7 linked regions of the Homo sapiens genome follow. The protein of the gene in region 2 purifies or fractionates together with the protein of the main gene of each other region. This does not show direct contact. Each region holds a gene or a part of one and is shown on either strand. Other genes may lie near its edges.

Region 1 (4,157 bases), on a different chromosome or scaffold from region 2:
GTAGGTCTCGTCTGTATTCTCCACCAGCTGGTGCACCGACAGTGTGGCATTGTAGGGCTCCACCACCGTGTCCGACACCTTGGGCGAGGGCATGACGCTGAAGGTGTTCATGATGCGGTCCGGGAACTCCTCACGGATCTTGCTGATGAGCAGCGTGCCCATGCCTGAGCCCGTGCCGCCGCCCAGCGAGTGCGTGAGCTGGAAGCCCTGCAGGCAGTCGCAGTGCTCGCACTCCTTCCGCACCACGTCCAGCACTGCGTCCACCAGCTCCGCGCCCTCCGTGTAGTGCCCTTTCGCCCAGTTGTTCCCTGCACCCGTCTGGCCTGCAACAAAGAGAGTCCCGTGCCGTTTAAACAGGAAAGGGCTGCGCCATCACCATGCTTGGTCACCGACAAGGAGGGTGTGAAGTGATTCCATGATGTGCTGTTAGCCAAAGGGAGGGGCCGGGGAAACAGGCACCCACCAACGGTGCAGCTGAGCAGATGCACTGGTACGTTTTTAGGCAAGTCAAAGTAGCTACTGGTCAATTTTAAAGATGTATATACATTTTGACCTGGTTGTTCCATGTTAAAGAGGTAATTCTTGCACATGGTAGAATTCAAAGGGAACAAAAGGTATACATTAAAAAAATAAGTTACTGGCCGGGCGCCGTGGCTCATGCCTGTAATCCCAGCACTTTGGGAGGCCGAGGCGGGTGGATCACTTGAAGTCAGGAGTTAGAGACCAGCCTGGGCAACATGAGGAAACCCCATCTCTACTGAAAATACAAAAATCAGCCGGGCGTGGTGGTGGGGAGCCTGTAGTCCCAGCTACTTGGGAGGCTGAGGCAGGAGAATTGCTTGAACCTGGGACCTGGGAGGTGGAGGTTCTAGTGTGCTGAGATGGTGCCACTGCACTCCAGCTTGGGCGTCAGAATGGGACTACAGCTCAAAAAAAAAAAAAAAGTTCTCTCCTTTGGGCTTTCTGAATCTTATACTGTACTATGTATAAGTATTTTCTTTTCTTTCTTTCTTTTTTTTGGAGACGCAGTCTCACTCTGTCGCCCAGGCTGGAGTGCAGTGGCGCAATCTCGGCTCATTGCAAGCTCCGCCTCCTGGGTTCACGCCATTCTCCTGCCTCAGCCTCCCGTGTAGCCGGGACTACAGGCGCCTGCCACCACTCCTGGCTAATATTTTTGTATTTTTAGTAGAGACGGGGTTTCACCGTGTTAGCCAGGATAGTCTCGAACTCCTGACCTTGTGATCCGCCCGCCTCGGCCTCCCAAAGTGCTGGGATTACAGGCGTGAGCCACGGCGCCCGGCCCAAGTATTTTATTTTTAAAACTTGACACTTTTTCATGTTAATGGAGCCCCTCATTCATCATCCAGAATTACTGTTGCAAAATGTTTGCAGAACCAATTATTTATTCTGCCCCTATAATTAAATACTAAGCACAGGAAGTAATTCCTGCCCTCAAATTGTTTCCAGGCCAGTTGAGAAAAGGAGCTTAATATGTCTGAAAGACTTCTGTATTTTATGCAGAGTTCAAGTAACAAGAAAGAGACCTAGTCTGTTTTCTGCATAATGGTGCTTTTTTTTTTTGAGACGGAGTCTTGCTCTGCCACCCAGGCTGGAGGTGCAGTGGTGCGATCTCGGCTCACTGCAAGCTCCGCCTCCCGGGTTCACACCATTCTCCTGCCTCAGCCTCCCAAGTAGCTGTGACTACAGGCACCCACCACCACGCCTGGCTAATTTTTTGTATTTTTTAGTAGAGATGGGGTTTCACCATGTTAGCCAGGATGGTCTCAATCTCCTGACTTCGTGATCCACCCACTTCGGCCTCCCAAAGTGCTGGGATTACAGGTGTGAGCCACCGGGCCAGCCCCATAATGGTGCATTTTTGCCAGACAGGCTTATGTATATCTTACTTTACCTAAAAAAAATTGAATCTGAAAGATTGGCTCTTAAATTTAAAATCCTATTTTTCATTTTATCTCATTTTAAAATGGATTATTTCACTAGCAGAAGCATTTTTTTCCCAGCTGTAAAAATTACACAGGTTTGTATGTCCATATGAACAGATGCACGTAGGAGTGGGAGGAACTAATTTTTGTTTTTGGTTTTCTGGGCACTACGAGTTTCATATAATGCAATGGCTTTCATACATTGCTGTGAACATCTGTATTTATTTATTTAGAGACAAGGTCTCGCTCTGTCACCCAGGGTGGCGTACACTGGCACCACCCTAGCTGACTGCAGCTTTGAACTCCTGGGCTTAAGTGATTCTCCCACTTCAACCTCTTGAGTAGCAGGGACTACAGGCACATGCCACTACACTTGGCTAATGAACATTTGAAAAAACTAGATACTAGATACCTCTCATTTATTTTAAAGTTAACATCTATTATTTTTCATAAGTCAAATAGTTGCATATGATATAATTTTAATTTCTGGAAACAATATAATCACTTTAAAAAACTCTTCTTCTGTTAAATGTATTGATAGAATATATTAAAAATCAGAAATAATTCCAATCAGTTGAAGTTGATTCTTTTTAATTTCCTGTGATTACAAAGTATTAAATGTTATCTATCTACCTATCTATATCTATTTTTTTCCTATTAATTCATTTATCCAAGGGTGAATATTAAATACTGCCAGAAAGGGCCAAGGCTTGGGATCAATTCTATTCCTCTTAATTTTTACATATATGAGAAATCTTGTCCACAGATATATGTAAATGGGAATGAATTATGTTCTACAATGTCATTCAGTTCTTTGATTGTCTTCAGAGTTACATCCCAAAAATCAAATAGTGAGCTATTATCAAAAAGTATTTTCAAGCCTGGGCAACATGGCAAAACCCCATCTCTACTAAAAATACAAAAATTAGCTGGGTCTGGTAGTGCATGCCTGTAGTCCCAGCTACTCGGGAGGCTGAGGTGGGAGGATCACTTAAGCGTAGAAGATGGAGGTTGCAGTGAGCCAAGATTGTGCTACAGCACTCCAGCCTGGGTGACAGAGCAAGACCCTGTCTCAAAAAAAAAAAAAAAAGTATTTTCAATCATCTGTCACTTAACTCAATTTTGTTTATTTATTTATTTATTTATTTTGAGATGGAGTCTCACTCTGTTGCCCAGGCTAAAGTGCAGTGGCACGGTATTGTCTCACTGCAACCTCCACCTCCTGGGTTCAAGCAATTCTGCTTCAGCCCCCCGAGAAGCTGGGATTACAGGTGCTGCCACCACACCCGGCTAATTTTTGTATTTTTTAGTAGAGAGAGGGTTTCACCACGTTGGCCAGGCTGGTCTTGAACTCCTGACCTCAAGTGATCCGCCCACCTCGGCCTCCCAAAGTGCTGGGATTACAGGCATGAGCCACCGCACCTGGCCAACAACTCAATGTTGAAGAAAGCAGAATTGGAAACGACCTAACTTGCAGGTCATGACATTTTACATCAGTCATTCTTTTCTTGTTTCTGAATGTAAACCAAAAAGGCTTAACCAAGACTTACTAAATACACTCTCACTCTTTCACTTTAAGGCAATTTATTCCAGTATACTTAGAGTTGGGAAAATTGAAATACTAATTTCTAATATGACTTTGTCAATTTAATTTTTAATAAAATGTTTTAAATATTTATTTTCATGAAATTTTGGGCTGCAGATTTAACTAATTCAAGTCATAAAAACTTGCATTGCATTATACAGACCTCTCCCCACTTACTCCAACTTGACTTTTGTCTACACACGGCTGGTGGCAACAATTCACAGCCACTGCCAAAGACCAGCCTCTCTGGTTTCACGTGGGCAGGTCCATCCCTGATGCTGCACTCACCCTGGGGGCACTGAACTATGAAGCAGTGAAACCACCAAGGCTGCCTCTGAGAGCTGCCAAGTGCTACATCGGGTAAGCAAGCTGCCTTTCACTTGTCAATCTTTAATTAGTGGACAAGGGGCTCCCATGCAATTTGGGACACGGGCCTGCTCACAATGAGGTCTACTGATGGCACCCCTGGCTTCTGCAGTACATAACAAGTGCAGCCTTACACAGTGGCTCTACTCTTGGGGGGGATGAAGCATTTATCAGTGCTACACACTGTAGGTGTTCAGTGCAAGAAAAAACAAATTCTGTGATTCTTCATTAAGTGTACTGAACTTAATGTTAAAATGTATGTA
Region 2 (4,157 bases):
AGAAGCCTGCCTTTTGATCCTGGCCAGACCATCACGAAGGCCTTTTTACCTGATACAAGTAGAGAACAAATAAGGGGAGACACTGGCTGGGGGAACAGGGCAACAGAGAGAGATGCACAGGTATATTCAGTTACCTTTCCCTGGTCCCCACCCTCAAAATACTGCTTGGACCCAAAACTAAAGAGGACTAAGCTGATGTATTGAGCTGATGGGAGGAAATGGCATTAGTGCTCTAGAGGAAGAGAGAAGGTGACATTATGAAGGAGTAATTATATATAAGAATTTTTTTAAAAGCTAGTCTGATTGCCAGCTAAAATGGTCTCCTAGGGGTTATTCTGGTTTCTGTTTTGTGTCAAGGTTTTTTTGGTCGGATATGCCGTAGTGCCTGCTCCATCTCTGGAGTTTGTTTCCTATTAGGAAGGGACTTTGTTTGCCTGAGGGAGCTGGCACATGCTGGACGTTGGTGCCATGACCCATCTGAGTCACATTCCTGACCTCTAGGGCCTAATAGTTGGCCCCATGCCTGCTCCTCTTGGGCCACACACCCTGGGCTCTGTTGTTGAAAGCCTCCTTTATGTGCTCTAGGCTCCCAGAACCCTGGCCGAAGCTCACCTCCCCCTGGCTATGTTCCTGAGCGGCAGCAGCACATTGCCCGGCAGGGGTCCTACACCAGCATCAACAGTGAGGGGGAGTTCATCCCAGAGACCAGCGAGCAGTGCGTGAGTATAGGGGGGCTGGGATATGCCTGTGGCCTGTATCAGCAGACCAAGCTCATAACAAGGGGTTCTTAGTAGTCACAGTGCAGAACTGAGGGACATGAACCCCATTTGAAAGCTCTTTTATAAACCAGGCCTGCCCAAATATGGATTGTCCCTTTTTAAGGGCCAAATAACAATTTCTGCCAAAGATGGGATCTAAAGGATCTAAACTACATAGTTTCCTTGTTGTTGGGTGAGGATTTAACAGATTTTTCTTCATCGTGGTCCTCTCATTGTTCCTACAGGCAGGCACCACCACGCCCAGCTCATTTCAGTAGTGTTTTAACATACGACTGGTTCTAAAGTGACAGGTTATGTTTTTCATTGGATATATTTTAGTTTTGCTGTTTCTTGATGAAAGGTAAGGAGTAAACCATATCAAAATTACACTGTAGGATTGGTTAGGCTGATCATTTATGATGGTAGACAGTTGTATTAGTTATCTATTGCTCCATAACAAATTACCACAAACCTAGAGGCTTAAAACAATATACATTTATCATTTTCCAGTTTCCCTGGGTGAGGAGTCCAGGCATGACTCAAATGGGTCCTCTGCTGAGGGTCACACAAGACTGCGATCAAGGTGTCAGCCAGGCTGCCTGCCTTTCTTGAGTTTGAGGCTCTTTTCTAAGCTCAGATGGTTGTTGCCAGAATTCAGTTTTTTTGTGGCTGTAGGACTGTGGTTCCTCTTTTCTTCTGAATGTCACCCAAGGGCTTCTCTGAGTTCCCTTCCTAGAGGCCACCTGCAGTTCCTTGCCATGGGGCCCTCTCACAACATGGCAGCTTCTTCAAAGCCAGCAGGAGAATCTTTTGCTCCAATCTGCAAAGATGGAGTCATAAAACATCACATAATCATAGGAATGAATATTCTATCCTCTTTGCCATAGTCTATTGGCTAGACTCACGTCACAGGTTCTACTTGCACTAAAGGGAAAGGCAGTTCATTGGGACTAATTGGAAGAGGGAGCAATCACCTTAGGGTGTGTCTACCACAGTGGCTCAGCCATTTTAGTGGCTAGCTTTTAAATTGGTGGCTTACTTGATGCAAATGGCAATTTGGCTTAGTGAACTCACCAAGCATGAGATCTCTAGCTTCATTCTGGTCTTTTCAATAAACTTGCTTTGATGTAAAAGAAAAGGCTGCTCTTACACTTTCTGGGCTTGGCCTGAGAAGGGGAAATTTCTTAAGGGGAAAATGTCCAACAGAAGGGCCTGTGCTGTCACATGGGAGATCTTATAAAAAGCTGATTCTTGTAACTTTTCTTTCATTATTCAAACTATGTAGGCTATGAGAAGCCCTTTGTACTCTTCTTCCTTCTATACTCCTGCCTTCCAGATAAATTCATGTTTGGAGTAGTGACCTGGAGTGCCATTAGCTGCAGATTTCCTTTTTGGGCATTTTACTGACCATCCTTTCTGGTTTCTCTAACCAGGGCACTTCTGGACATCAGCTGTTCTAGGGGTGACTTGGGTGTAAAATCCCAGAGATTGCAGATGAGCTTGATTGCCCTCAGTCTATGTCCCTCGCCATGGTCCTATACTCTGCCCCCTTCACTTTTTTACTTTGCCTGCATGGCCCTGGAAGGCCTGGGAGGATTTGACTCCCAGTGAGGACAGACTTTTAGAAAGAGGCCAAGGAAGGCAGTGGTTGGGGATTGCCAAGGTCCTCCCCCAGCGCCTGCCTCTTTAGCTGAAGAGAATTGCTCCTGGTAACAGGCCATTTGAGATCAATCTGCTTAACAGGAACGAACACTGCATAGTATGTAATAAAAGAATATTCCAGTGTGACTTTACTGAAAAGTGAAAATATGATAAGTTTTGTTTTTTCTTTAATCAGGTTTAAGCAATAATTGCATCTATTTACTAATTTTTAGAATGAGCAAAGCATGATTCATGTTAATTTTTTGGCCTAATTTTTCCAACAAAAATTATGTCAGTCCGGTCGCAGTGGCTCATAGCTGTAATCCCAGCACTTTGGGAGGCCAAGGCAGGAGGATTGCTTGAGGTCAGGAGTTCAAGACCAGCCTGGGCAACATAGCAAAACCCTGTCTCTACAAAAAAAAAAAATTTAATTAGCTGGGCATAGTGGCACACCTGCCTGTAGTCCCAGCTACTCGGGAGGCTGAGGTGGGAGGATCACTTGAGCCCAGGCTGCAGTGAATTGCACTCCAGCTTAGGTGACAGAATGAGACCCTGTCTCGAACAACAGCACCAACAACAAAATGCTAGCACAATGTAACGTCCTTCACTCCCTGCTTGACTTCTAACCATAAAGAACGTCATTTTTTACAAGAGCGTTCACAGGACTCAGCAGTTTTCCCCAAGGCCTCTTGTGAATCTTTGGTATTCTTCCTCCACCACACCTGCCATGTTATTTATTTGTCCATTTTGTCTTTTTCTGTTAACTAGTCTAAATTTGCCAAATATGCATCTGATGGATTTAAAGCAATTCTCTCCGATGTTGGTTTCATCCACTTTGGCTATCCTATATCCTTAGCAACATTTGCAGTTTTACTTTGCAATTAATTTGCCTTGATTGGCAGATTTTAAAAAATCATGTGTGACAACATGACTTAAAGCATTTGAAATTATGGGTGGGGATGGACCCTGGTATTAAATGGGAAAAAATATTTGAGTTGGAAACTAATTTTATGGAGGTCGTTAGTGAATTTTCATAATTCTGATACTTTGTTTCCCTATGTAATTTTTTAAAATTAATTAAAAAAATATTTAAACAGAAACAAGATCTCACTATGTTGCCCAGGCTGGTCTTGAACTCCTGAGTGCAAGTGATCCTTCCCTCTCGGCTCCCAAAGTGCTAGGATTACAGGCATGAGCCACCAAGTCTGGCCCCTATGTAATGTTTAATGTTGGAGCTCGGATAATGAATATTCTGAAATTGAAGACCCCACCCCAACTTTTGTGCAGAGAAAATGAAAGGGAGGACCTTCAGGACATTGATTGGAGAAAAAGGGATTCCAAAGGCCTTTTGTTGCTGCATTTGACCAGGGGCCAGAGAAATATTTTATTATATTTAGATATCTATTACCTCTGCATTGGACCAGGAACTGGGACATTTTTGTTCTGGTATCAGCTGTGCACTAACTAGTTTTATGACTTTAGACAAGTCTCCTAACCTTTCTAGGCCTGTAGTGCTCATCTGTGAAATGAGGCAATCCTTGTCTTTGTAAATTATAAATTATGGAGTGTAAACAGAAGCATTAAGGTCCCACCCGAACTCACTGGAAGGCTCAGCAGGGTAGTACCATCTCCAGCGCCAGGCTCCAGTGTTAATGAGCCAAGAACATGCCAACAAGAAAAGCAGAGCCTCTGCTTTGCTCTCCTGCCAGAGCTCCTTGGGATGCCAGCCAAGCATTTTTCTCCCTCCTGGAAACTTGC
Region 3 (4,157 bases), on a different chromosome or scaffold from region 2:
TACTTTCTGATAGTAATTATAAGATCAAAGATTTGTTAGCAACAATCCTTTGCCTTAAACTATAAAGGGAGCAGAAGGGGTTCCAAATATCAAACAAGAAAATGAGTTGGTGCAGAGGAAATGTATATTTCTCTTAAAGGCTAATATATACGCATAACAAAAAGCCAAAGACTAACAGATCTTTTTTCTTTAAACACACTGAGAACAAAGCCTAGGTACTTATTTTTGTAAAATACATTTTTCTTGGAAACAAACAACTAATTTATAGCAATGTTAATAAATAATTCTAATAAGAAATTATAGGAGCATATGCTGAAAAATAAGTTGCTTGGATGCAATATCAAGTCAAAACAATAAAACAGCAGATTTTTCTGATGACAAATCTATAAAATATAGCAAGTTCAGGGATTTCCTGTAAAGTAGGTGAGCAAATTGTGGTATACAGCAACCAAATATTTATCTCAATGCACTGTTTAAATCTTTAACTTGTAGGTCAAATCATTTATAACCTTCAAGGGAGACTTGAACCACTTCATCTCAAATAATTTTATTTCTAGTAATCAAAATATCTGACAAAATACGTGGGAAATTTTCTTTCCTGTGTTGAAAAATGAAGTTTGCATTTATTCACTAGGGCATGTTGACCAAAATCTGTGGATCAAATTTTATATAAAAGAAGAATTCATTCTTTAAATGAAAAATTTACCAAAAACTTAGCACGTCAAACAGAGAAAGTATAACTTTTTTTTTTGAAATTTAGGTGAGAGGCTGTGGTTCAGGATGATATTTCAGAGCCTAGTGTAAAATCACTCCTGTATTCTTTTGTATTGGATGTTTGTTTGCCTCCAGAATTCCTATGCTAAACCCCTAGCCTCCAATGGCATGGTAGTAGGAGGTGGGGCCTTTGGGAGGTAATTAGGTTCAGATGAGGCCATGAGGGTACAGTGCCCCTGCTTAGTGTCTGTCTTTATAAGGAAAGAACACGACTAGAGCTTGCTCTCTTGGCCATGTGAGGACACAAGAAGGCTAGACAGTGGTCCCTCACCAGACATCAGATCTGCTGTTGCCTTAATCTTGGACTTCTCAGCCTTCAGAACCATGAAAAATAAATGTTTGTGGTTTAAACCACACAGTCAATGGTATTTTTGTGATAGGAGCTTGAACTAAGACATGCATACACATACTTCTAATTTTACTTCTGACTGGACTGGAAGTCAAAGCTTGTAAATGACTATGAAATAAAACATTCCTGTTGATATCAGTTAATTTGTAACTGCATATATAGCTTTCTGTGATTTTTGCCCAATGATCATAATATTTCCATAATATTTTTAATTCAGTCAATATGGTGAAAATTTTTACTCCGCTGGGAAATTGACATGTAAAATTTACATAGTTTGATCAGAAATAATGATTGCTGCCCACAGAAAATGCCAAATTATTAAATTAACACATCTAGCCACATATATATTCATACAGCAACTGCATGCTCACACAGGTGTAAAGTAGCTAGTACTTTTAAGAACAGCTTAATCTATATAGGACATCACAACATTAATGCTTTCACATTAATTATATCATTAATCCTTAAAATACCCTGTGTAAGGAACAGAAAACCAAATACTGCAGGTTCTCACTTATAAGTGGGACCTAAATGATGAGAACACACGGACACATAGAGAGGAACAACACACACTGGGGGCCTATCGAAAGGTGGAAGGTGGGATGAGGGAGACGATCAGGAAAAATAACTAATGGATACTAGGCTTAATACCTGGGTGATGAAATAATCTGTACAACAAACTCCCACAACACAAGTTTACCTATGTAACGAACCTGCACATGTACCCCTGAACTTAAAATAAAAGTTTAAAAAAAATACCCTGTGTAGAGCAAAGGTTGTCACCGTGGTTTGTAGGCAGGCTGAAACTGAGATTCAGAACAGTAGCATGTCTGAAGGTGTCAGAGCCACATGGGAATGCCCTTCCCGGCGTTGTTAGGTTCTATCTCACTGTTTTTTGTTTTTTGTGTTTTTTTTGAGATGGAGTCTCACTCTGTTGCCCAGGCTGGAACACAGTGGTGCCAGTGGCACGATCTTGGCTCACTGCAACCTCCGCCTCCTGGGTTCAAGAGATTCTCCTGTCTCAGCCTCCCAAGTAGCTGGGACTACAGGCACCCACCACCATGCCTGACTAATTTTTGTATTTTTAGTAGAGAGGGGGTTTCACCATATTGGCCAGGCTGGTCTGGAACTCCTTGATCTCGTGATACACCCGTCTCAGCTTCCCAAAGTGCTGGGATTACAGGCATGAGCCACCGCGCCCGGCCCTTTTTTTTTTTTTTTTTTAACGGAGTTTTGCTCTTGTTGCCCAGGCTGGAGTGGAGTGGAGTGGCGCGACCTTGGCTCACTGCAACCTCCGCCTCCTGGGTTCAAGTGATTCTCCTGCCTCAAGCCTCCCGAGTAGCTTGAATTACAAGTGTGCACCACCACATCCAGCTAATTTTTATATTTTTAGTAGAGACGGTTTCTACATGTTGGTCAGGCTGGTCTCGAACTCCTGACCTCAGGTGATCTGCCTGCCTCGGCCTCCCAAAGTGCTGGGATTACAGGCATGAGCCACCGCAACCAGCCCTATCGCACTATTTTTAAGGACACTTACAACAAATCTTCCAGTTTTGTTAGAGCAGCCGTAAAGCCGAGGTGGATGGTCTTCAGCCTGGGTTTCCAGTAGTGGTGAGGTCTGGTAGTCTTTTTTCCCTCCAAGGGAATTCCAGAACTCCTCTGTGGAAAACACACTCAGTTATCCAGTGCATTTTCAGGGACATATGCTTGCTGTCGCTTTATATGAACAAATATTATCTCACCTTGATTTCAGTGTTGAGAAATTACTTAAAGAAATCAGGTACCATCACCCACCCACCTCTGCAACTAATGGAGAGATTGTTAACCCTTATAAGCCATTAGAAAGTGACTTTTTGGTGAAAAAAAGATGATTAGCAATCGTATCAGTATAAATTCTAGTTAGTGCCCTTGGCCCCAGAGCACACACCTGGCTCCTCGCCTTCTTGGATCCTTAAGGTTTTGCACTTTAGGACACTTGCTACATACTCTGCTCCTTTCTCCTCCTCCTGGCTAGCACCTTTTCCTACCCAGATGTAGCCACTATTTTGTGGCAGTTTCAGGACAAAAACATCGTTAGAATTCAGTGAATTTGCATCAACATCAACCTGGAATATGAAGAAAAATAAAACAATGATTCAAATTCATTGCTGCTCCCTCAATAAACATGTCCCAGAAGCTGTGACTGTGGCAAACCATACATCGCCTTCTGCCCTATCCCAGGAAATTAATTCAGAGCCGCTCTGGGACACCACTATGGTATTTTAAACCCTAGAGTAGGAGCACTTCGGTCTGTGTCACTTGTGGATTTGTGACTCTGTGTCTGTCTCTGTGAGAACTGTCTGACCATATGACTGTGCTACTATGTCACTGGTATGACTTTCTGTATAATTGTCAAACAAGTGTGATGTGTGATTCCAGAAAGAGGAAGAAGAACCAGTAAGCAAGACTGAGGGGGAGCAGCTGAGACGGAGGAGGAAAACAAGAGCGTAAAGTGATCTTGAGGCCAAGTGAGGAAAATGCTTCAAGAAGGCAGGGGTGATTTGCTGTGCCAAATGGTGCTGCTTGGCCAACCACACTGAACTGCCAGGATGAAGGCAGCCATGATGTGGAGAGTTGAATTTCACCAGGTTTGTCAGGAGCCTGTTGAAGGAGAGAACACTAGAGGTGGAAGGAATGGCTGTTGGAAGTTTTAAAGGAATGTCCAGGAATTGGGAACATTCAGGAAAATAGTTAAAGTCCTCTCCCAGCAGGAATGAGGCCTCACAGAACAAGCTCAAAGGAATCTATCAGATGTGATTATGGAGAATTACAGGAACCAAGTCTGGCTTCCAGGGCTTCCAATTTCTAATACAAACATCTCATTATGGGTACAGAGGAAAGAGCCCGGATGATGGATAGAAGCTGACAAGAGACCTGTGCCCAGACTGGTGTGAGATCAGGAAATGAGATCTAAAACAGAATCTTTATAAAGCCTTAGCCTGCCGGGAGATGAAGACAGAAAGACCTGTAAAATGATCTTGACTGGTGCATTTCA
Region 4 (4,157 bases), on a different chromosome or scaffold from region 2:
CACATTAGTGATATTTAACTTTCTTGTTATTTGGTCTAGGCAGACATAAATAAGCAGTTATGATAGGTTATGTCTTAAGTAAAATGGTTACATGACAAGAATCCATTATAAAGTGCTGGGATAGTTGGATAAATGTAAACAATTAAATATAATGTAGCCTACAACTATAATCATGACTATAGCTGAATGATAGAAAAATATAAAGAATGAGCCTATAATTAATTTTTTTTAAAGACGTGGGCATTTGGAACTATAGGGTAAGTGGAAAGGAAAGAGGCATTTTCTTTTTACTTTTCATAGCAAAGAATACTTTTTATAAATGAGCTAAATGAGGTTAACAATCTCACTAAAAATTATAGCAGTTTTTATTCTTATTTTAAGAAAAAAATCTTTTAAAGCAGTAAAAAACAATCCCAACTAGTTTCTAATACAGTACCATGTGCATGTCTCTGCTACTAAATAAGTAACGAGCCCTTCAGATACAGGAAAATAATAGGAATTGAGATTTAAGTATCTGGCTAATTACAAGATACCTATCAAACAAGTTAGGACATCAAAAGACATTTAAAATCCATGTCTTCTGTGTGTAAACAAATCTTTCTTGTCATAGGGTTTTATGCTACCTACCTTCAAACATAGTTGAAGTATCATAGATCTTTACCTTTAGTCTAGCTTGGTATTGCATGCTTGTAATTAAAAGCCTTTGACTGTATGTTTAGTTATTAAATGGCCTTTACTGTTATTTTTATGTGCCTCTTGAAATCTTTCATTTCTTAAGTTCCAGCATCCAATTTTTGGATGAAAGAGGCATTTTCTTTGCCTCTTAAGTTCCAGCATCCAATTTTTTTAAATGTGCCATGATTTCTTTTTCAGAAAATTAAAACCAATACATTATTAGTGGTTTTAATACAGAAGCTCTGCTTTTTGTCAGTAAAAATGGGTTCTGTCACATACGTGTTTTAAGCATCCAGGTCCAGGCATAATTCAGTATCCATTTAGCCAATCTGAATAACAATTTATTAGGATGAAAGGGAAGAAATCTTAAAGTGAATTCTGAAAGCCCTTTTGTTGCAGTTCGGGAGTAGTGGAAACTTAATTCAGTTTGGTGGTGAGAAGAATGACTGTCTGCCAACCCCAATTGCTCAGTTGTCTATCTGTAATTCTCTGTTTTTTACATGGGCAATAAAAGTTGAACTGACTCTTGTCACATAGAGTCAGTCAACCATTAGAAAAAAGGTATGGGGTAGAACTAGGTGGTGAAAGCTAGGACTTGTTTGTCAGTGTTGTAGAATTTTGTTTTTTTAATTGTTAGTAATGCATAGATTCAGAATACAAAGGCTTTGTTTAAAAACTAAAAACTTCCACGTTATCTCTCCTCTCCTTCCTCTCACCCCTGCCCCGCCCCCCGCCCTTTTTTTTTTGAGACAGAGTCTCACTCTGTTGCCCAGCCTGGAGTGGAATGGCACCATCTTGGCTCACAGCAACCTCCAACTCCCGGGTTCAAGAGATTCTCCTGCCTCAGCTGGGATTAGAGTAGCTAGGATTAGAAGCACACACCACCACGCCTAGCTAATTTCTGTATGTTTGGTGGAGACGGGGTTTCACCATGTTGGTCAGGCTGGTCTCAAACTCTTGACCTTGTGATCTCCCTGCCTCAGCCTCCCAAAGTGCTGGGATTACAGGCATGACTCACCGCGCCCAGCCTCCTCCTTTTTAAAAAATAAAACACTCGTCTTTGGCTTAAAACCTGTTATTATTTAAAGAAAATGGTATGTCATGACATTTCTAGCAGCTGAAACCACCTCTCCCCTCTTTTGTAAGTGAAATATTAGGTGGTAATGCAACATACATGATTAACTTCTACCTTGTCCTCTGGCCTCTGAGATATTCCTAAAGAATACCCTATGTTTCATGGACTGCTGTTAGAAACAACTAAGCTAGTACTATCTTTTATAGCTGCCTGTGTTCTTATAGTCTTAACTTCTAAAGAGAGACATTATTTACTCTGGGCTGTTTTCCAATACCAACAACCAACTCTCTTGATTTCTGTGGACACCAACTGGGTGTCCTACAAATCAATTCAATTCTGACACTACCAGGATTAGCATCACATCCCACAAGTTATGGGCTCGGTCTTACAAACCGCCCCCACTTAAGACACTAATTGAGTCCAGAACCTCTCATATTTCTGATGATGGAGTAGCCTACAGAACTTAGAAAAACAGTTGACTTTCTTGTGCTGATGAAGGATCCACCTCATGAGCAGCCACATGGAAGCGATGCATAGGGCAAAGTATAGGGGAAGGGGCACAGAGCTCTTGTGCCCTCTCTAGGAACACCACCCTCTCTAGGAACACCACCCTCTCAGCATCTCGATGTGTTTGCCAACCTGGAAGTTCAAGAGTTTTTATAGAGCTGAATCTTGAGTCCCTTCTCCCCTTCCCAGAGGTTGGTGGTTAGGGTAAAAGTTTCAACACTCTAATCAGTTGATCTTTCTGGTAACCAGCTGTATCCTGAGGCTGTCTAGTGTTCCCACACCAAGTTACCTCATTAACATAAACTCTGTTGACCCCGAAGTCTCTAGTGATCCTTCCACCTTAGCCTCCCAAGTAGTTGGGACTGTAGGTGCACGTCACCACTTCTGGCTAATTTTTAAATTTTTTGTAGAGACAGGGTCCCACTATGTTGCCCAGGCTAGCCTTGAACTGCTGGCCTCAAGTGATCTTCCAGCCTCAAGTGATCTTCCCACCTTGACCCCCCAGAGTGTTGGGATTATAGGTGTGAACTGCTGTGCCTGGCCCAAAGGACTCATTATAAATAACAAAAGACGGTCCTGTCGCTCAGGAAATTTTCCAAGAGTTTTAAGGGCTCTGAGCCAGCAACTGGCTGCAAAGCCCAAATGTATTTTTTCGTTATACCATATATTTAATATTATATTTGGTGATCTTCACCTAATCATCTTCATTTACCTGGTCTTCTGTCAGTGGGAGCAGCCATTGAGACCATGTATGAAAACCCATTCCCTCATTCATACAGTTACATAGTATAGGAAACTATCACCTAAATATAAATACAGTGGCTTTGATCTGTAACCCAAAGAAAAAAATAACTTTACATCTCGATGACCCAGTGTGTGTGTATATATTTATAGGTACATATGCACATAAATAACTAAAACAAGTTACAGAAAGTAATATTCTTGCTAGGGTATAGTACAGAATATCTAATATTCTCTATTTCATTTTTAAAAATTATTGTTCAGGACCCATAAACTGATTTCATCACTAGTGGGAGACACCACCGTTTTAAAAATATTTACCAATTGAAATTAGGTTTCTCTAAGGCTAATGTTTCTTTTACCTCATGTCAGCTTTTGTTTCATACATAATTGCTGTCAAATCATCTAGCAGTGCTTCCAGTTGATGTGCAATTTTCTTGTCTATTGGAGATACTTGTCACAAGATGTTCACTACTATTTGTCCATTGCCATGTGTGAAACCTGCATCTGGTGCAACATGCTGATGGGAAGAGTGCCTGAAGTAACTCCCATTTTCCCAACAGTTTGGTAGAGAGCGTATGGACTTGGTGCTGCATCCATTCTAGAGTACTCTTGCTCCTTGTTGGCACTGTTACTTGTGATTACAAGGCCCTGAATTCATAAACTTAGAGATAAAAAACTTCCTCGAGCTTTGACCTTTTCAGTTACTTAATATTTTTCAAAATTCATATCATGCACTTGTACTCCAATTTTAATCTCTTTAGGGAACTTACATGATATAATTAAAGACTTGAAATACTCTCCTGTGTAACAGTAGATCAGATAAGGTACACAGTATGTTTTATCTTTTATAATCACCGCTTTAATAGCAGATGTGCTATTAAATAGGAAAAGTGCCCTTCACGTGCCATTTTATAATTGCATATTATAAAATGATCACACCCTTAACTCATCCTCTGCAATTTCTCAGTAGTATGGCACTTGACAAAGCACTTGCTCTCATTCTTCATAATAACCCCATGAAGGCTGCGGGGCATTTTTGTGTTGTTGCTGCTGTAAGAAAACAGGTTTGATTATCTAACTGATGGAATTTATATTTATTTAACCTATTTTTAGGAATGACCCCAAGTTGCATATATTCGGAAGCCTGCATTTAATG
Region 5 (4,157 bases), on a different chromosome or scaffold from region 2:
TGAAGGCTCGCAGAAAACTTGGCTAGCTTGAAAGGAGGCATCGATCTCTTCAGTGTGGTTGCTAGCAGGAAGCCTCGGCAAGCTAATAAATACTATTTACAACTGGGGAGGAGAAGCTGGGGAGGCAGAACTATGGATGTGTGGGGAACCAGGTTGTGGGAGGTCCTAAAAGCGACAAGATGGGGCAGGTTTGCCTGGAGTAGAAAAGCCTGATCCCCTCAGGCATTGCACTTGCGGCCTGAGAATATGAACGAGAGCCCTCGCCTGCCAGTGCTGCTGCAGGAGACGAGACGATCCAGCGAGGGCTCCCAGGGGGCAGAGTGGGCGGAGGGCTGCTGTCGGGGGTGTTCACACCAGAGACCCCAGTGCGAGCAACGGAGGACACGGGTCAGTGCTTTGCCAAATACCAACAGGCATTATGGCATTTTTGTGGCCAGAGTCTGGGGTCTTGACTGAACAAGAGCCATCTCGTCTCCAAAGCGGGGGGTTACACCTCACAGGTGCACATTAGGCAATATCTTTTTGGCACTATTGGTGGAAACAAGCCTGCTTGTCCCACCTCCAACCCCTAAAATAATTTCCTATGGCAGTAAGAGAAAGGAAGGGAGGGATGCAGGCTCCCTTCTGCACAGGAGGGGCATGGACCAGGGGGAGATGCTCTCTCACTGCAGGGAAGTCCCAGGCTGGTCTCCAATCTGAAGCCACTAATGCTTGCCCATGTCTCCATGAAGATCCAGTGGCAAAGAGGAAAAGCTGATGACAAAGGTGGTTTGGGGATGTAAAAGTAGAGTTAAGGGAAAGGGAGGGGGTGCAGGCAGCCTCTTTAGAAAGTGGTGTTCACTCTTCTGTCGAGTTCTACAACTTTTAGTGTTTCATTCCCCTCCAGTTTGGCGCTGACCCTGTGAAGGCATTAAAAGGAAAACGAAGTATTAGTCACCAGCTGTTAGCTACAATTCTCATGCTTTGTAGCGTGATGCAATCATTCAGGGGTTGCAACTTGGTGAGACGGCCTGGGCATGTTTCTTGTCCTTTTCTCTCCTAGTAGCAATTCTCTGTTTCCAAAGTCCCCTGCTACCAGCCTCTCCACTAGTCCACATTCCTACCTTTATCTACACCCAAGGCATCCCAACCCTACTAAGGATAATCATGGTGGCTTGATATTGATCTGCTATGAGATGCATTAAATTATTCTATTTACTTAGGATGTTTAGCCCTATGCTAAACTCAGGGAAGGAGAAAATAAAATGATAAGAGCTGATCCTTGGCCTAGAAGAGCTAATAATCCAGATAAAGATTTTTAACAATGAGCTAATTTGAAATAATAATAAATCCATAACAGAAAATAAATACATTATTAAATTGTGTAACAACCTGGAAAATTTCTAGGCATTCAGAGGAGGGCTAGGAGGCTTTGTTATCTAGGAGACATCACAGAACAAATGGGATTTGAAGTGGGCCTTGAACAGCTTAGCTGAGAGAAGAGAAACTGTGTCCAGAGCCAAGTAAGAAGGCACTGGGTCTTCTAGAGATCCCAGCGGTGGCTACATTGGCAAGTCTCTCTATGACGGGAATAATAATGATGCCTTACCACATGGGATACTTAAAAGGATTTGTATGATACTGTTTCAGTAGCCCTCATCCGAAAATCTAAAATCTAAAATGCTCCAAAATCTAGAAATTTCCGAGCATTGACATGACGCTCAAAGGAAATGCTCACTGAAGCATTTTGCATTTTTGGATTAGGGATGCTTAACTGTTAAGTATAATGCAAATATTCCAAAATCTGAAATCTATAACACTTCTGGTCCCAGGCATTTCAGATAAGGGATAGTCAACCTGCCTCACATCTGTAAAGTGCTTAAAATAGTAAGTGCTAGTAAATGTTAAATATGTATGTATAATGTACACACATAAAAGTACTTCATTATAAACCTTCCCCTGCAGAATTAGGGGATGAAAGCTGAAGAATCTGAAACAAAATCTTTCCCATTTACATCGGAACGGCCTCATTTCTGGGAGGCATAGGAGCAGAGTTCAGCTAAATCACCAACCATGTCACACGTAACCAGGAGCATGCATGCAGGCCCAGGGACCTCCCCTATTACAACAACAATACCTTGCAGTCGCATAAGCCTTTATGTTTACAAAGGGATTTTTCCCAGAAACTGAGAAACAACTCATGTAGAATTGGAGCCAAATAGAGGTTGTTCTCAATATGGAAATGTGTGCACAGTGCCTCTTAAATGGTACCCCTCAACATACATCTATAAGTATAAAACTATAATATGTATAGTTTTAATTAACACATGTGTATTTACATATAAATCATAAACATATATTGACATATAGCACAATATATATCTACTCCCTAGTTGAAGCCATGAAACATGTCTTAAAGTTGGATTTGCACAGCAAACACACTGTGGTTACCTGGGCTGTGCATTCACTCGTGTGGCTTGGAAGGGAGGATGGAGACAGTGGGGGAAGGGATTCAAGCACTTCTTTGTGCCACCACGCCAGCTCCCCGCTGATGCAGCAGACATAGGGGAGCTCACGCTGGTTTTTTTCCTCATCTCTGCTCAGGGCAACTGTTGGCCAGCAACAGACTCTCTGCAGTCCCAGGTCCTGGAAATAGGTCCTGAGAGAGCTGAGGGACTGAACCAGGCCTATGGAGAGTCTCAACCTCACATCTCAGGTTGCTGACTCATAACCCACCATCAGTGCACTAGAGGAGTTGGCTCTGTGTCTCTATGACTCACAGGTGCTGCTGCAGCTCCAAAAGCACTGACTTCTCCAGGCTGGTCTCATTCGAGATAATGAAATGGGGAAGATCCACATCCGGCCTGGACTCCAGCCCTGACACCCTGAGCAGGGAGGAACCTCTATCCCAGCCCCCCAGCTCCCCAGCCGAGCCCGGGCTGGATGACTCCTCTGGGGGAGAATGTTCCTCGTAGATCAGCAGGTTTCTGGATCTCACTGAGGACAGAGCAGAATAATAAGGTGTTAGCAAAAGACCACAGGGGTCCAACACATTCCCTCACTCCAGGTGCTCAGGGCTGGTGGCAGATGACAATGTGTGTGTTCTCGTTGCCCAGAACCATGGGTGCCAACAGAATTTGGCTTTCTATAAAGACTTTAGAGCTTCGGAGTTTGTGCATTGAAAAATTATACCAATTATACAGTGCTGGAAGAACAATAGAAAAGCAAATAAACACAAGGCAAACTACCACCCCCACTGCTTTGAAAATATAAAACTCCCCCCTTACCACCCATAACCATCTAGGGAAAATGATTCATGGAGAATGGGAGTGGAATACTTGGAGATGTCCAGACCCAGCTAAAAGAAGCAGCATTCCCAGTGAGTAGGTCTGGCAGGGGGATGAGGTACAGGGCATCTCATTTAGAAAGGGAAGAGGAGACACAAAGCCAAAGCCATAAATCAAAGGATAGAGACAATCTCCTTTGTTTTGTAGGACAGTCACACAGCTAGATGGCTCTGTAGCAATTTTCCATGACATAGAAACTATGCTTCCAATTAAATTTAGAGAGATAGTTCCTTGGGGGGAAAAATTCTCAACAGGCCACTGAAATTATTTAATTGGAATGCTAGCACTTCTGTCATACCTGGCAGAGACACACCTGCCTGGTGAAGACCACAGACGTTTCAAGATGGCAAAATTTTCCCTATCCCAAATCCAGTACAGTAGTCCTCCCTTATCCATGGGGAATACATTTCAAGACCCCCAGTGGACGGCTGAAACCGAAGATAGAACTGAACCCTATATATATGGTATAAGGTATATATGTATGGGAAAAACCATACAGGGTTTATATATGGGCATATAGCATGTAGGGTTCATATGCCTTTTCCTATACATATGTACTTATGATAAAGTTTGATTTAGAAATTAGGCCCAGTAAGAAATTAACAATAATAATAAAATAGAACAATTCTAACCATATCTTCTAATAAAAGTTACATGAATGTGGCCTCTCTCTCTCAAAATTTCTTATGGTGGTGTACTCAGCTATTTTCAGATAACTGCAGGTATTTTTATTGGCTGCAGGTAGTGTTTCTTACTATAGTGTATTCAGCTATTTTAAGGTAACTGCAGGTATGTTCATTGGCTACAGGTAACTGAAAGCTTAGAATACAA
Region 6 (4,157 bases), on a different chromosome or scaffold from region 2:
AGACAACCTAAGAAACCTAAGAAAGGCTATTCTTGGGGGGGCAGGGGGGCTACAACACTGATTAAATTACATGTTTTTTAAGCACAGATTTTTTAAAAATCCTATTAAAATTCTAAATCAGTGGCTTCCAGCAATTTTTCTCTGAAACAGACGTCTCGGATTTTGCAGACACCAATGTTCAGGCACACGTGTACACAAGAATGGTGGAAAGAGTCATGGTTTTACATGGAGTGTGCAGTCTGCCAGCTCAGAAATCTCCTGTGTCCCAACGGCACAGGCGGTTCATTCTCCTGCCAGCCAAGTTAATTCTACCAACATGCCAATAGTTAGAAGGGGAGAAAACAAAACAAAACAAATTATTTCCACTTGACTTGCTGATTGCTAATAATATTCTTCATCAAGTAACCCAGGCAGGAACACTTTTCATCTTCAGAATTAGCTATGGCTGCCATTTCCCCTTTTGTCAAATACAGGGAGATATTTCCCACGGTCTGCACATGACTCAGAATGGCTTCATCTTTATTTCACGTTCTACATTTCTTGTTGCTTGACTTAGGAGCATATGAGCTTTTCCCTAGCCAGGCCTTTCCCTGCAACCTACCTACCCTCCCTCAGCACTAAACAATCACATTTCTTGATCCATTCAAACATGCAGGCCTCGGCTGGACACAGTGGCTCACACTTGTAATCCCGGCACTTTAGGAGGCCGAGGCAGGAGGATTATTTGAGCCTAGGAGTTCAAGACCAGCCTACGCAATGTGGCAAGACCCTGTCTCACATCAAACAAACAAACAAACAGGCTTCTACCCACACTCTTCTATACAAATAGTTTTCTCTCCTTTAACAGAACTCAACTCTTCAGAGATTTTCTAACCATACAGTAAAGGGTGAGACACTTTGCTAAAACTTGTGGAGTAGTTAAAGATGAAAAGGGGACAGTATCCACCTTCAAGGAGCCCTCATTCTAGCAAAGAGAGACATGCATGAAAACCAGTAAACCCTAAATACTGTCATAAAGCATGAGGAATGCAGTTCTGTGCCCCACTACAAATAAACACTGCACTTAGTAAAGTCCTCACTGGAGGAAGACCCCATTCACAATGCAAATCCTATTACTCACTATACAACTTGCTACTTCTAACTTTGGGAAAAAAGCATTGAGGAAGCAGCATAATTCTCAGGGCTTCCATAGTCAACTGGGGGTAATCTTGCTCCAGGCTACACATTCTATCGCACCCTCTCTCCAAAGACTCCCCAGGGAAGGAAAATAAGAAAAAAGCAAAAAGTGACCTTAGACAGGCACAACTGTGGGACAATGAGGGAAGGCAGAAGATTGATGGGGTAAAACAAATGCATAAGTGAAAATAGAGCTTTTCTCCACTTCACCCTTAAATAAGCCAGGATTTTAGGTATGATCTTAAGGAGAATGAATGAAGTGATTGTTGAACTCAGGGAAGTAGGAAGGTTGCATGACCTTTGTACCAGCTTTAGGGGCTGGCATTTCTGAGAGAGGCTGGCCCTTCCTGTAGAGTTCAAGAAGTTGGGTGAAAACAAGGCACAATCAGAGGGCAGACATCCTGCCAATTGTGCAACAACCAATTGTGCAATGTGCTTTGAGCTTCCCTGCTGATCACCTTCTCAAAACAGAGGGGCCACAGTAAGGAGCCTACATGTGCAAACGCCTAACACAGTACCTAGCATACAGTCAGTAGCATATAGGAAGGCAATGCAGTCCGGTGGGAATAGCATGAAAGATTTAAAGTATGCCCTCAGACCGGGCACGGTGGCTGATGCCTGTAATCCCAACAATTTGGGAGGCTGAGGTGGGCGGATCATGAGGTCAGGAGTTGGAGACCAGCCTGGCCAACATAGTGAAACCCCGTCTCTACTAAAAATACAAAACTTAGCTGGGCATGGTAGCACATGCCTGTAGTCCCAGCTACTTGGGAAGGTGAGGCAAGAGAATCGCTTTTACCCAGGAGGCGGAGGTTGCAGTGAGCCAAGATCGCCCCACTGCACTCCAGCCTGGGCGACAGGGTGAAACTCCATTTCAAAAAATAAAAATAAAAAATAAAAAAACAAAGTATGCCTTCACAGCTTCAAATGTGGCTTCTGCCACTTAAAAACTCTGTACCTTGGCCGGGCGTTGTGGCTCACGCCTGTAATCCCAGCACTTTGGGAAGCTAAGGCAGGCGGATCATGAGGTCAGGAGATGGAGACCATCCTGGCCAACGTGGTAAAACCCTGTCTCTACTAAACATATAAAAATTAGCCAGGCGTGGGGGTACACGCCTGTAGTCCCAGCTACTCAGGAGGCTGAGGCAGGAGAATCACTTGAACCCAGGAGGCAGAGGTTGCAGTGAGCTGAGATTGTGCCACCGCACTCCAGCCTAGGCAACAGAGTGAGACACCATCTCAAAAAAAAAAAAAGTAGCTGTTGCCTTGTGAAAAGATAGACAAGTTCATTAAATTACCTGGCTTCTGATCTGCAAGTGGGTTACCTGGAAAAAGCGTTGTATGCTCTAAAAGTCCTAGATAAAAAAATTTATTTAACTTTCTCTTCTTCTTTCCTCTGCCTCACCTTACCCCCTGAACTTCCCAGAATGGGAAAAGGAAAGACTTACTTCACTTTACTAGTGCAGATATGGTCTTTTAGTTAGGAACTGTGGTCAATTATTAATGAGAACTGCAGCTATAGTAACACTGTAGATAAACAGGCATTAAAATACTAACAGATCATTGAACACCTGTATTTATTTTTTGCTCCAAGGACTCCATATATTCAGATTTTCTTCAAGATCTTATCCTTTTTTCTCTTTCCGTACATTCCCATTCAACCACCCCTTGAGTATTAATCACTAGTCCAAATGTTTGTTCAGTCCTGACATTGCTATTGGGCATTTCAGGACAGTATCACCACTGTCAGCTGTCACCTCCAAAAGGATAACCAATCAGCCCCTCAAACCCACTGACTCTATAACAGGACGTCATCATTCTCCTCAAACTTCCTCCTTCTATGACTTCCAGATACTTTTTTTTTTTTTTTTGAGACACAGTCTTGCTCTGTTGCCCAGGCTGGAGTGTAGTGGTGCAATCTCGGTTCACTGGAGCCTCTGCTGCCGGGTTGCAGCGATTCTCCCGCCTCAGCCTCCTGAGTAGTTGGGATTACAGGCATGCACCACCACGCCTGGTTAATTTTTGTATTTTTAGTAGACACAGGGTTTCACCATGTTGGCCAGGCTGGTCTCAAACTCCTGACCTCAGGTGATCTGCCCGCCTCAGCCTCCCAAAGTGCTGGGATTACAAGCATGAGCCACCATGCCCAGCGACTTCCAGATTCTTAATGATGCTCCCTTATAATTGCAGATGCCTGAGTTCTAAAACCAGAAGTCCTCAAGTCAAATCTGTCACCAAGTGCTATTCTACTTCCTTTTTTCTCCATTCTATCCACAGTTCAACCCTTACTTGCCCCGAGACATTTACAAAGCTTCCTAACACATCTCTCAGACTTCCGGTCCTTTTCCCTCCAATTTAGCCTAACACTGATGCTTCAGTGAGCTTTCTAAAACACAAGGCACTCCATTCCTCCCATGCCTTCAATGGCTCCCACCTGCAACCAGGAAAAAGTATAAACTTTCTACGATGAAATTTAATGTCCTCCATGATACAACTTCAACATAACTTTTCAAACCAAAGTTACATGATTCCTTCACAAACTCTTAGCCTATGCTCCGCCAAATCAAAACTCTCCTTGTTCCCTAACCCTACCCTGCCTTTTATGTTTTTACAGCTTTGCTGAGCAAACCTCCAGGCAAACAGTAGGAACTAATCAATGCCAGTTGATTAATCAATTGAAATCAATACCCTGGCTTCTAATCAATAATAGAATCTAGGTAGATTCTAGATTGCAAAATTCTTTTGACTTTTCTGAAAGTTTAAACCTTTTCATAATCAAACACTGGGAAAAAATTAGTTAAATGAATAAATAAATGAGAAAATGAATCGCTTGGGACCTGGGTTACATTCTCTCCCAAGAATCATACAGTACAAAAAGATATGTGGCACTATCTTTTTGAAAGAGGGGTAATGGGATACAGAGTCCCAAAAAGGAAAGGAGGAAGAGCTTACCTTTAGGGTTCAAAGTAAATATTTTGGCC
Region 7 (4,157 bases), on a different chromosome or scaffold from region 2:
TAACATTTAAGTCTTTAATCCATCTTGAATTAATTTTTGTATAAGGTGTAAGGAAGGGATCCAGTTTCAGCTTTCTGCGTATGGCTAGCCAGTTTTCCCAGCACCATTTATTAAATAGGGAATGGTTTCCCCATTTCTTGTTTTTGTCAGGTTTGTCAAAGATCAGATAGTTGTAGATATGTGGCATTATTTCTGAGGGCTCTGTTCTGTTCCATTGGTCTGTATCTCTGTTTTGGTACCAGTAGCATGCTGTTTTGGTTACTGTAGCCTTGTAGTATAGTTTGAAGTTAGGTAGCATGATGCCTCCAGCTTTGTTCTTTTGACTTAGGATTGACTTGGCGATGCAGGCTCTTTTTTGGTTCCATATGAACTTTAAAGTAGTTTTTTCCAATTCTGTGAAGAAAGTCATTGGTAGCTTGATGGGGATGGCATTGAATCTATAAATTACCTTGGGCAGTATAGCCATTTTCATGACATTGATTCTTCCTACCCATGAGCATGGAATGTTCTCCCATTTGTTTGTATCCTCTTTTATTTCATTGAGCAGTGGTTTGTAGTTTGCCATGAAGAGGTCCTTCACATCTCTTGTAAGTTGGATTCCTAGGTATTTTATTCTCTTTGAAGCAATCGTGAATGGGAGTTCACTCATGATTTGGCTCTCTGTTTGTCTGTTATTGGTGTATAAGAATGCTTGTGATTTTTGCACATTGATTTTGTACCCTGAGACTTTGCTCAAGTTGCTTATCAGCTTAAGAAGATTTTGGGCTGAGATGATGGGGTTTTCTAGATATACAATGATGTCATCTGCAAACAGGGACAATTTGACTTCCTCTTTTCCTAATTGAATACCTTTTATTTCCTTCTCCTGCCTGATTGCCCTGGCCAGAACTTCCAATACTATGTTGAATAGGAGTGGCGAGAGAGGGCATCCCTGTCTTGTGCCAGTTTTCAAAGGGAATGCTTCCAGTTTTTGCCCATTCAGTATGATATTGGCTGTGGGTTTGTCATAGATAGCTCTTATTATTTTGAGATACGTCCCATCAATACCTAATTTATTGAGAGTTTTTAGCATGAAAAGTTGTTGAATTTTGTCAAAAGATGGGGTCTTCTATGTGGCTTAGGCTTGTCTCCAATGGGGTCTTGCTATAGGCTGATCTCCTGGGCTCAAGTGATCCTACTGCCTCAGCTTCCTGAGTATCTGGGACTATGCTTTTAATTATGCACTAATACACATTGAAATGCTAAGTAAAACGGCCCAGTCACATGTAAATTGTTGCTGATGTTTCCCTATTTCATAGAATTGTTTGAGTTATTTTTTAATAGAAGAAAGGTTTTTTGTTTTGTTTCTTTTTTAGTGTTTATTTTTTAACACTGTAGGCCTACAGATTAAGGATGGCAAATTGTGGATTTGGATCTTATCCAAAGAGTATAGTGTCCCTTTAATAATTGGAAATATTTGTTTATTGTTTATTATGTTCATGACCCTGTGCTAAGTGGGATAAAGAAAGTATGCCATTCCTGTCCCCAAGGAGTTCTGGGTAGTTAGAGAGGCAAAATACAGATTCATAAAAAGTAAAAATCACAAGATGAGAGATGTCAAATGTAGAACTGAGAATGCAGATTCTAAGTGATAGGGGTTTCCAGGAAGGAAAGATTAGTGGTGTGGTAGAAGCTAGTTTTTAAAGAAGGGAGTACCTGGCTTGAACTTGTAACGTAGATGCTATTTTGGTAGGTGAAAGGAAAGTAGAGGCTCTTCCATCTAAAGAAAATAGTGTAAAAGAAGCGTGGAGATGGAATACAAGTGGCATGGCCAGAGGGCAGTAAAAGCCCTGCCTGTAGAGTAGTCCCTCTCTTATCCACTGAGGGTATGTTCCAAGATCCCCAGTGGATGCCTGAAACCATGGATAGGACCTGCTGAATGAACCCTATATAAGCTATGTTTTCCCCCCAGATATACATACCTGTGATAAAGAGTAATTTATAAATTGGGCACAGTAAGAGATTAATAACAACATAATAAAATAGAACAATTATAACAATATGTTGTAATAAAAGTTATGTGAATGTGGTCTCTCTCTATATCTCAAAATATTGTATTATACCATGGGCAACAGAAATAGAGAAAGTGAAACTGCTCATCGCAAAACTGCCAATAAGAGGGGACTGCTGTATTTGAAAGTTAATGTTTGAAGCCAAACTGTGGAAGTCATTGAGAACCAAACTGATGAATTTGGATTCTCTCATGTATGTAAAGAAGTGTCACTCAAGGTTTTTGAGCCAAAAGTGATGTGAGGAAATAGGTACCTTAGTCTCAGAGGCATGGTAAGGAATATAGTGTGGAGATAGTAAGACAGGATGGGAAGCGTTTGCAATAATCCAGACATGTGATAAGTGTCTTCAGAAGTTCATGGCACTAGATATGAACTAAAGCAATAATTTGATGTTGCTTAGGGAAAGTAGCATTACTGTCATTAGCCACACATTCTTTACAGAAGTTTATATTGTTACGTTTTGAAATTCTGCATCTGGTAGGTCCAAGGTAGTTTGTTGTTAGAAGTAGCAGGATCGCCTTAATAATAATAATAGTTTTGTAGCATGAAGCCTGAGCATTGTCCAAAGTTTGGAAATGTGAACGCTGATAGTCACATCTGTCCATCTTTCCACATTTCTAGGATGCTGACAGACAGCACCAAGAAGTAATTGCAATTTATCGGACACACCTTCTTAGTGCTGCACAGGTAAAGAACTACTTCTCCTTTGGAAAGAATATTGCTTTAGAGATAATAATTTTTTATTTTCAAATAAATTTATGTGAAAGTAATTGATGTTTAAAGTAGCTGCACCCCCTATGCTTATTTAAAAATAATTATGTTTCTTTTAATCATTGTTTGTGGATCTCCCAGAAAAATTTACAAAGCTATATGGCAACACAACATCTTAAATTTAGTGTCGTCTCCATCTGCTTGTCACTCAGTTTATAGACAGTTTGGTAACATGTGATGGTAGCACACGTTAATGGTGTTGCTAGCTGGAGATAATGCCTTGACATCCACGTGTGGCTGTCATCTAAGAGGAGAGTGGGAATGGCTTTGAATACTAGAAAAGTACAAAAGTGACAAGCAGGGTGTTATGTGTATAGGATTGTAGTAATTAAAAATGATCTGTTTTACCAAGCCTTAACTTGGCTTGGTAAAGCCAAGGATTAATTAAGGAATAACAGTATGAATTCCCTTTTTTAGGGGTGTACTGAGAAAGTTATTGTTAAAATCATACTAAGAAATTACTAACATATAAAGGATACTATGCTTAATTTCCTGTAGAAACCCCGTGAGCAGCATCTTCAAAATTCTCAGAATAGATTTTTTTTCAGGAAGAAAATGTACTAAAAGAAACAAATTTTAGAATGACAGAGATCCTGGGAATTATTTGGATTTGAAGTATGTTAGGCCACACTGTAAAAACAAGCAAAAAAAAAAAAAAAAAAAAAAAAAAACAAACAAAAAATGAAGAAGGGAAAGATGGATGTTGAGAGAAAGCTTCAAAAAAAGAACAATTTTAAAAAGAGAACTAGATAAAATAATAAAAAGAAAGATACTTTATGATATCAAATTCTTAAAATCAATAGACCTGCCTCTTCTATAGGAAATGGAGGGGAAACTAATGAAAAAGAATGAATGATATGATAGAACAAGGGATCTTAGCTACTCTCTTTTGAGCAAATCAGAGATAAACTAGAATCTTAAAGTTTATTGCAATTATTAGAGAAGATTATTGAGGGACAGTGAATAGGAAGTTCAAGTGGGGAAATAGCAGAAAATCTGTATTAGAGAGGCTGAGAAACTCACTAGTATTGGCCATGAGAGGAAGAGGTTGCTCCTAATGAAAAATACAGCAAACTAACAAGCCTTTCCACTTTGTATAATATGCACTTCCGGAATTTGAAATTATTTTCTACTGTGTCCTAATGAAACATAACAAAAGCAATTGACATCAGAAATAGTCTTGCCTTCTGGCATCATAAAGTTAACTAAGAAATTCAGTTCAGTCAACTATGGCTAATGTTTGAAATGTAAACATCCTGCTGTTATAGAAACAGATTTTGGAAGCAAAACTTTTCATATTAATAGGAAGTGTTGTGCTGAAACCTATTTAAGTAC

Evidence for each region.
Region 1: the proteins of MAP3K3 (region 2) and TUBB6 purify together in Homo sapiens (tandem affinity purification; one large-scale study listed by IntAct). This does not show direct contact.
Region 3: the proteins of MAP3K3 (region 2) and SCIN purify together in Homo sapiens (tandem affinity purification; one large-scale study listed by IntAct). This does not show direct contact.
Region 4: the proteins of MAP3K3 (region 2) and XPOT purify together in Homo sapiens (tandem affinity purification; one large-scale study listed by IntAct). This does not show direct contact.
Region 5: the proteins of MAP3K3 (region 2) and CREB3L2 purify together in Homo sapiens (co-immunoprecipitation; one large-scale study listed by IntAct). This does not show direct contact.
Region 6: the proteins of MAP3K3 (region 2) and CPVL purify together in Homo sapiens (tandem affinity purification; one large-scale study listed by IntAct). This does not show direct contact.
Region 7: the proteins of MAP3K3 (region 2) and UACA purify together in Homo sapiens (tandem affinity purification; one large-scale study listed by IntAct). This does not show direct contact.

What each region holds. Positions count from the first base shown.
Region 1 is NC_000018.10:12,321,233-12,325,389, reverse strand, and holds part of TUBB6 (tubulin beta-6 chain), read right to left. Parts: intron 582-4,157; exon of another isoform or gene 324-581; coding exon 1-323. UniProt on the Homo sapiens protein: Tubulin is the major constituent of microtubules, a cylinder consisting of laterally associated linear protofilaments composed of alpha- and beta-tubulin heterodimers.
Region 2 is NC_000017.11:63,681,181-63,685,337, forward strand, and holds part of MAP3K3 (mitogen-activated protein kinase kinase kinase 3), read left to right. Parts: intron 1-585; coding exon 586-719; intron 720-1,155; exon of another isoform or gene 1,156-1,578; intron 1,579-4,157. UniProt on the Homo sapiens protein: Component of a protein kinase signal transduction cascade. Mediates activation of the NF-kappa-B, AP1 and DDIT3 transcriptional regulators.
Region 3 is NC_000007.14:12,643,209-12,647,365, reverse strand, and holds part of SCIN (scinderin), read right to left. Parts: intron 3,229-4,157; coding exon 3,051-3,228; intron 2,783-3,050; coding exon 2,661-2,782; intron 1-2,660. UniProt on the Homo sapiens protein: Ca(2+)-dependent actin filament-severing protein that has a regulatory function in exocytosis by affecting the organization of the microfilament network underneath the plasma membrane.
Region 4 is NC_000012.12:64,410,621-64,414,777, forward strand, and holds part of XPOT (exportin-T), read left to right. Parts: intron 1-4,157. UniProt on the Homo sapiens protein: Mediates the nuclear export of aminoacylated tRNAs. In the nucleus binds to tRNA and to the GTPase Ran in its active GTP-bound form. Docking of this trimeric complex to the nuclear pore complex (NPC) is mediated through binding to nucleoporins.
Region 5 is NC_000007.14:137,879,653-137,883,809, forward strand, and holds part of CREB3L2 (cyclic AMP-responsive element-binding protein 3-like protein 2), read right to left. Parts: intron 2,977-4,157; coding exon 2,760-2,976; intron 900-2,759; coding exon 824-899; 3' UTR 1-823. UniProt on the Homo sapiens protein: Transcription factor involved in unfolded protein response (UPR).
Region 6 is NC_000007.14:29,139,498-29,143,654, forward strand, and holds part of CPVL (probable serine carboxypeptidase CPVL isoform b precursor), read right to left. Parts: intron 1-4,157. UniProt on the Homo sapiens protein: May be involved in the digestion of phagocytosed particles in the lysosome, participation in an inflammatory protease cascade, and trimming of peptides for antigen presentation.
Region 7 is NC_000015.10:70,658,732-70,662,888, reverse strand, and holds part of UACA (uveal autoantigen with coiled-coil domains and ankyrin repeats), read left to right. Parts: intron 1-2,672; coding exon 2,673-2,738; intron 2,739-4,157. UniProt on the Homo sapiens protein: Regulates APAF1 expression and plays an important role in the regulation of stress-induced apoptosis. Promotes apoptosis by regulating three pathways, apoptosome up-regulation, LGALS3/galectin-3 down-regulation and NF-kappa-B inactivation.